Homo sapiens: one gene and its partner. The protein of the gene in region 1 purifies or fractionates together with the protein of each later gene. This does not show direct contact. Each region holds a gene or a part of one and is shown on either strand. Other genes may lie near its edges.

Region 1 (3,500 bases):
CTGTGTATTTCCTGCTGTAATTTTCCCTCTGCTCAGAACTCAGACTCTTGAGTTTCTGATTCAACACATTGTTAATACACATTAAAGACTCAAGCATCTAAACAGACTAATTGGTACCTTAAAGCAGCACTTAATACTCTTCAGTGAACTACTTCCAAGTCAATTAAGAGAATCTTCTCTACTAGAGTAATTAACTTTAACATAAGATATGAACTATGTTATTTCTTGAGAATTATGCCTTTCTCCAGGTAGAAAAAAGAGTTGTAACATGTTCTGGTTCTCTTTCGGGTGCTTACTAGAATCAGTTGGGAATTAAAGAAGGATAGGGTCTGAAAATTAGGGACACAGCGTTGACGTAGGCAATTCATACTTAATGCTACACAAGTTTTTGAGTTTCTCAGCTTTAGTTTTCCCAAATGGGAAGTAAGAGTAATAGTTTTTACTGCCTGATCATTGTGGTAAGGATTAAGAGATTGGTTGGTGTGCGGAAACATTGTGAGCAGCTTGGATGAAAAGATGACCTGGCCGCACGTGGTGGCTCATGCCTGTAATCCCAGAACTTTGTGAGGCTGAAGCGGGTGGATCACAAGGTCAGGAGTTCAAGACCAGCCTGGCCAAGATGGTGAAACCCCGTCTCTACTAAAAATACAAAAATTAGCCAGGTGTGGAGGCGGGCGCCTATAATCCCAGCTACTCAGTAGGCTGAGGCAGAGAATTGCTTGAGCCTGGGAGGCGGAGGTTGCAGTGAACTGAGATTGCACCACTGCACTCCAGTCTGGGCAACAGAGCGAGACTCCGTCTCAAAAAATAATAATAATAAATAAATAAAAGAATGACCTGACTGTGGACTGGAAGGGTCTGGAATTGCTAAAGATGAGCCCCTGAGGTATTGCTGCCATGAGTTCCAGATTCGTGTCAGTTTTTTTGGCACCCACAGCAGGAACTGGGGACCTTTGTGATTCCTGGTTTGTCATTTTTCCTGGTGACTACAGAGTGGAGAGTCTTACGTCTTCAGCAAGACTTTGATGTTGTATTGGACAGCTGTGCCTCGTATGTAGTTAAGGAGACAGCACAGTTCACCGCACAAAGAGAGTGTCTCCATCCTTGGGTTTATAAGCTTCACACTTCAGTTTTTCTTTCCTATGCCTCTTCTGCATACAAAGCAGTGGACTTCCATTAAACTTTGTGAGGTGACATTTTCCTAGGTCCAAGGAGGGAGCCTAGTCTAGTGGCAGTAGCCCTGGGCTCAGCTCTCTCAACAGAAATCCATTCCCAGCTTGTCTCTGACCTCAATAGGGAAATTCCAAGGGATTTGTCCATTTTTTTTTCCACATTCTCTCTTACCAGATCTCCCCAGAGAAGCCCATTGTCAGGCTTGGGCTGGGAATCCAGTGAGTCACTACGCAGAGGTTTTGCTGACTTACTGGCTGAGGGCAGGATGATACATTGAGAAGAGATTGCTTACAGGAATGAATACAACACTTTGTGAGGAAAGAGGGGCGCTAACTACCATTACAGGCAGAATTAGATCCATTTGCATCTGCCCCCTGCATGGCCTCTCCAACGGGGCCATGAATATGCTGGAGGTGTTTGTGTCTAGCCTGGAGGAGTTTCAGCCAGACCTGGTGGTCCTTTCTGGATTGCACATGATGGAGGGACAAAGCAAGGAGCTCCAGAGGAAGAGACTCTTGGAGGTAATGGCACTGTTACAGAATTTCACAGATCTCAGCTGGTGGTTTTCTTCAGGTTCCAGCCTCTCTTGGCATCTGCTGCCTTGTTTCCTGTGGAAACAGCAAGCAGCTCTGCACGGTTCTTCTCATCCTTGCCTTGCAGAAGAGCCTGTTTATTTTTGCCTCTGTCACTTCCTGAAGAAATCAGTGTATTTTCAATACAGTGTGGCTCCTTTCTCCTAGGTTCAGTTAGGTCGTGTTTCCTAGCAGTGTCACTATTCAAGGGTTGAGTCCACGTCTTGCTCTCTGGAGAATGTCAATGTAATGTATTTTTCCCATCGTACAGAGTCTTTGTTGATTTGCAAAATGTTGGATTTGGGGTTCATACCCATATTTTTTGTTGTCATGGGCATTTAGGTCATCAGTCTGTTCTCTTATTTGCTTGTTCTTTTGTTAATTCATTCCCATGGCTATATGCCAGACACAGCATGATGCAGAAGGAATACGACAGAGGATGACACAGGCCCTGCCCTCAGCTCACAGTTTACTGCCAGAGATAGACACTTGGAAAAAGTAATTGCAGGCCGGGCATGGTGGCTCACGCCTGTAATCCCAGCACTTTGGGAGGCTAAGGCAGGCAGATCACCTGAGGTCAGGAGTTTAAGACCAGCCTGGCCAACATGGTGAAACTCCGTCTCTACTGAAAATACAAAAATTAGCCAGGCGTGGTGGCGGGTACCTGTAATCCCAGCTACTCGGGAGGCTGAGGCAGGAGAATCGCTTGAACCTGGGAGGCAGAGGTTGCAGTGAGCTGAGGTCGCGCCATTGCGCTCCAACCTGGGCAACAGAGTGAAACTCCATCTCAGAAGAAAAAAAAAAAAAAAAAAGGAAAAAAGAAAAAGGAATTGCAAAATCATGTGCCTCAGTCCTGTATTAGGGTACAGTGGTGGCCCCAGAAAGGAGGTAATCAAGTCTGCTTAGGGGTGGTAGGATTAGGAAAGGCTTCATGTTTAGGGAGGAACTAGCACTTGAACTTGGGTCTTTAAACAGTCATTCCTCTAAAGCAACTCACATAGAAGCAACTGGAGCAGCTAGATAGTCTGATCCTTTGGATCAGGTGCCCAGAAACCACTGATGGGCAGCAGGGAAGAGGAGATGCAGTGAGCTTGGCTGTTGGGAAGAAATTCAGCCTGCTTAAGTTCCAACTGAATGAAAGATGCTCAGGGCAATGCTGTGAGGAAGAATGTGCTTTAAACAATGACAGCCTATACTGTCTGCAGGGCGTGCGTGCTGCACACTGTATGCTGGTATTTGGAAGTCATGCTGCCATTCTGTACTGTCTCTCCTGTGTTTGAGAGCTCAAGTAGGGCTCTCCTGGGACTCAGGGGGAGCTAATTACCTTGAAAAAGGCATATAGCACCCATACTATGTTTCTGTTTCTTGGCTGGGTTTGGGTTTAGGTTTTTGGTTTGTTTCTTGCAGTGCCATGCTGACCTTAGGCCATTGTTGCTGGGGTCTCCTCAGCCAGAAACCAGCCTGCTTGGAGCCAAGGCTCCTGTGAGGTGCCTGAAAGTGCCCCCACAGCTAGGAGACCTAAAGCCTCTTCCTTTTCTTCCCATTGTGTTGACTGGGTTTTTCCAGGGGAGGAGTGGGGCCAGTTAAAAGCTCCCCATGCCAACCGATTCATCTTCTCTCACGACCTCTCCAACGGGGCCATGAATATGCTGGAGGTGTTTGTGTCTAGCCTGGAGGAGTTTCAGCCAGACCTGGTGGTCCTCTCTGGATTGCACATGATGGAGGGACAAAGCAAGGAGCTCCAGAGGAAGAGAC
Region 2 (4,222 bases), on another chromosome or scaffold:
CTCAGTCTAGGGCGCAGCACGGAGAGTTCGCAACTGTTTCAGGAAGAAGGCAGGCGGGTGGGCCGACCCAAGAAACGCACATTATACCTCCGGCGAAGTGAAGGGAGGGATAACAAAGCAAAGCTTGAGGGCTCCGAGAAGCTCTGAAGAAAACAAATCCAGCCATAAGCCCACTCCTGTAACCCCAGGCTTTGGAAGACGGAGGCAGGTAGATCGCTTGAGGTCAGGAGTTCGAGACCAGCTTGGGCCACATGGCGAAACCCCGTCTCTACTAAAAACACAAAAGTTGGCTGGGCGTGTTGGCGGGCACCTATAATCCCAGCTACTCCAGCAGCTGAGATGGGAGAATCGCTTGAACCTGGGAGGAAGAGTTTGCAGCGAGCCGAGATCCTGCCACTGCGCTCCAGCCGGGGCGACAGAGCCAGACCCTGTCCCCAATATACATATCAGATAAGAAAAAAATATAAGAAAGTTTAAAAAAATTTTTTTTGGCTTTTTTTTGTTTTTTTTGAGACGGAGTCTCGCTCTGTCGTCCAGGCTGGAGTGCAGTGGCACGATCTCGGCTCACTGCAAGCTCCGCCTCCCAGGTTCACGCCATTCTCCTGCCTCAGCCTCCCGAGTAGCTGGGACTACAGGCGCCCGCCACCATGCCCGGCTGATTTTTTCTATTTTTCGTAGTGATGGGATTTCACTGTGTTAGCCAGGATGGTCTTGATCTCCTGACCTCGTGATCCGCCTGCCTCGGCCTCCCAAAGTGCTGGGATTACAGGCGTGAGCCGCCGCGCCCGGCCAGCCTTTTTTTTTTTTTTTGAGACAGTTTCGCTCTTGTCGCCCAGGCTGGAGTGCAGTGGCACGATCTCGGCTAACTGCAACCTCCGCCTCCTGGGTTCAAGAGATTCTCCTGCCTCAACCTCCCGAGTAGCTGGGATTACAGGCGCCCGCCACCACACCCATCTAATTTTTTGTATTTTTAGTAGAGACGGGGTTTCGCCACGTTGAGCAGGCTGGTCTCGAACTCCTGACATCAGGTGATCCGCCCGCTTCAGCTTCCCAAAGTGCTGGGATTACAGGCGTGAGCCACGGCGCCCGGCCAAAAAAAAAAAATTTTTTTTTTTTTTTTTAGATATTTTTTCACTCTTGTTGCCCAGGCTGGAGTGCAATGGCGTGATCTCGGCTCGGCCTCCCAAAGTCCTGGGATTACAGGCGTGAGCCACCGCGCCCGGCCCGAAAAAATTTTTTTAAAAGAAAAGGGAAACAAAACAGTCTCCTACACCTTCGGACCACTCCCAAGAACGATGGCACCGCCCTCCTCTCCGCCCCTCACCAACATGGCCGCCCCCAAGGGAGTGGGCGGGTCTGCGGGGCGGAAGTGACGCACGAGAGGAAGTCCGTCCTGCCGCTTGGCCGCGGGGCGCCTGGCTCAGTGGCTTCTGCGGGCTTCGAGGAGCGGGATGTTGCGGGCTGGGTGGCTCCGGGGCGCGGCGGCGCTGGCGCTGCTGCTGGCGGCCCGAGTGGTGGCGGCGTTCGAGCCCATCACCGTGGGCCTAGCCATCGGGGCCGCGTCGGCCATCACCGGCTACCTGTCCTACAATGACATCTACTGCCGCTTCGCCGAGTGCTGCCGCGAGGAGCGGCCGCTCAACGCTTCGGGTACGGCGCGCGCGCGAGCTGTGGGTCGGCGCTGCGGGGGGCGCGGGGGCGCGGGGGCGCGGAGGGACGGCCTCGTGGGCGCCTGGCACGGACCGGGCCCGTGGCATCTAGACGGCGGTGGTCCCAGCTGGGGTGGGCGGGGAGCGGATGGGGCGGCCCCGGAACCGTTCGCGGGAACGCAGAAGCGGTGCCTTCGCAAACAGTCTCCAGATCGTGGGGCTGCCCCAGCGCCTTTCTAAAGCTCCCGTTCCTTGGGATCACAGGTGGAAGAAACGGAAAGTAGGCGGGCGGCCCTTCTGCGCCCTGCCAACCCTATTAAGTAGTTTTCAGACGTGCTGCGTCGCCCAGAAAGCCCACATTTGGCCCCTGGTTTTCCTGCAGGTCAGCAAGGGTGGCTGGGATTAGCAAGCGCTCAGTCAAGCGATGGTTCATCTCTGAATGAATGAACATTTAGCTTCCTTATCAGACCCCGAAGCGTTAAGGACCTCCACATAATCTTGAAAGTGGCATCGTTTGACTGCCTCGGCCCTAGGGTGTGGCAGACACCCTGCTGTGTCCCTGGATAATCTGTGCTTCTTGCTTTGGCCAGCTAAGAAAGTGCTGCGTTGCTGATGCATTTTTAAGGTCTGTTTCTCTCTTTGTTCTGGGGCTGTTCTTGCAGCTCTCAAGCTGGATTTGGAGGAGAAGCTGTTTGGACAGCATCTAGCCACGGAAGTGATTTTCAAGGCGCTGACTGGCTTCAGGAACAACAAAAATCCCAAGAAACCACTGACCCTTTCCTTACACGGCTGGGCTGGCACAGGCAAGAATTTTGTCAGTCAAATTGTGGCTGAAAATCTTCACCCAAAAGGTCTGAAGAGTAACTTTGTCCACCTGTTTGTATCGACTCTGCACTTCCCTCATGAGCAGAAGATAAAACTGTACCAGGCAAGAGAACCCGCTATTATCTCGTCTGCAGGCCAGTCGGACTGGTCCGGGTGACCTGCTCACTAACTCTGGCCTCTGCTTCTCTTTCCTTTGTGTTGCTGTAGCCCCCGGCTCCACTGAGTTAAGGCACACTTAGTCCAGGTAGTTACAAAGCTCTCCTACAACATTTCTCTTACTTGGTTCCAAAACAGTCCAGTGGGGTAGGGGATGTTATTTCCATTAAAAGATGGGGAGCCAAGGGCCTGGCGCCGTGGCTCACGCCTGTAATCCCAGCATTTTGGGGAAGCCGAGGCGGGCGGATCATTTGAGGCCAGGAGTTTGAGACCAGCCTGGCCAACATGGTGAAACCCCATCTCTACCTAAAAGTACCAAAATTACCTGAGCACGGTGGCACGCACCTGTAATCCCAGCTACTTGGGAGGCTGAGGCAGGAGAATCGCTTGAACCTGGGTGGCAGAGGTTGCAGTGAGCTGAGATCGCGCCACCGTACTCGGTCTCAAAAAAAAAAAAAAAAAAAAGGCCTGGCACAGTGGCTCACGCCTGTAATCCCAGCACTTTCGGAGGCCGAGGGGGGCGGATCACGAGGTCAGGAGATGGAGACCATCCTGGCTAACACGGTGAGACCCCGTCTCTACTAAAAATACAAAAAATTAGCCGGGGATGGTGGCGGGCACCTGTTGTCCCAGCTACTCGGGAGGCTGAGGCAGGAGAATGGCCTGAACCCGGGAGGCGGAGCTTGCACTGAGCCGAGATCGCGCCACTGCACTCCAGCCTGGGCGACACAGTGAGACTCTGTCTCAGAAAAAAAAAAAAAAAAGAGAGATGTAGTCAGGGCCAGGTGCAGTGGCTCACGCCTGTAATCCCAGCACTTTGGGATCCGCCAAGGCGGGCGGATCACCTGAGGTCGGGAGTTCGAGACCAGCCTGACCAACATGGAGAAACCCCGTCTCTACTGAAAATACAAAATTAGCCGGGCGTGATGGCGTGCGCCTGTAATTCAAGCTACTTGGGAGGCTGAGGTTGCAGTCAGCTGAGAATGGGCCACTGCACCCCAGCCTGGGCAACAGAATGAGACTCTGTCTCAAAAAAAAAGAAAAAAAAAAAAGATGGAGCCTGGAGCCCAGAGGCAAGGTGACTTACTCCTACAATCTTTGTAGCAGAACAGGACCTTTGTAGCAGAACCAAAACCTCCCAACTCCCAGTTGACATGGTAGCCACCTTCTCTGGTGAGTGAAGGGATTCCACATCCCCAGCAGTGCAGTTGGTGAGAAGGGGCAGTCAGTCTTCAAGGATTTGCTCCGGTGTGGCTTCATTCAATGCTGCCCACCTCTGGTGCAGCCTCAGCTTTGCCTCTGCTCTTTGCAATGTAGCCTAGAGGTCTTTTTTCTCCTTAACAGGTTTTATTCCCTTTGTTCCTCCCATCCTTCATGTCCTTGGCATTGCTTTCTTCAAAGGAAGCCTCAAAGAACTGAACCTTGAGACTGTTTCTCCTTTTGAGATATTGTTTCCACATTCATTTTATATTAAGTTGTCTAGGAGGGTTAGTTCTCATTTAAATGAATGTTGTCCTTGTCAAGGTTAACATTCCCACTGGCAACATAGCAAGACTCCATCTCTACAAAAAATAAAAAAATTAGCCAGGTGT

Evidence for each region. The genes of interacting proteins can lie anywhere in the genome.
Region 2: the proteins of ADPGK (region 1) and TOR1B purify together in Homo sapiens (affinity purification with mass spectrometry; 2 studies listed by BioGRID and IntAct, with this or other methods). This does not show direct contact.

What each region holds. Positions count from the first base shown.
Region 1 is NC_000015.10:72,756,259-72,759,758, reverse strand, and holds part of ADPGK (ADP-dependent glucokinase isoform 4 precursor), read left to right. Parts: intron 1-1,469; coding exon of another isoform or gene 1,470-1,694; intron 1,695-3,311; coding exon 3,312-3,500. UniProt on the Homo sapiens protein: Catalyzes the phosphorylation of D-glucose to D-glucose 6-phosphate using ADP as the phosphate donor. GDP and CDP can replace ADP, but with reduced efficiency.
Region 2 is NC_000009.12:129,801,762-129,805,983, forward strand, and holds the start of TOR1B (torsin-1B isoform 1 precursor), read left to right. Parts: upstream 1-1,422; 5' UTR 1,423-1,451; coding exon 1,452-1,650; intron 1,651-2,311; coding exon 2,312-2,577; exon of another isoform or gene 2,578-2,718; intron 2,719-4,222. UniProt on the Homo sapiens protein: May serve as a molecular chaperone assisting in the proper folding of secreted and/or membrane proteins. Plays a role in non-neural cells nuclear envelope and endoplasmic reticulum integrity. May have a redundant function with TOR1A in non-neural tissues.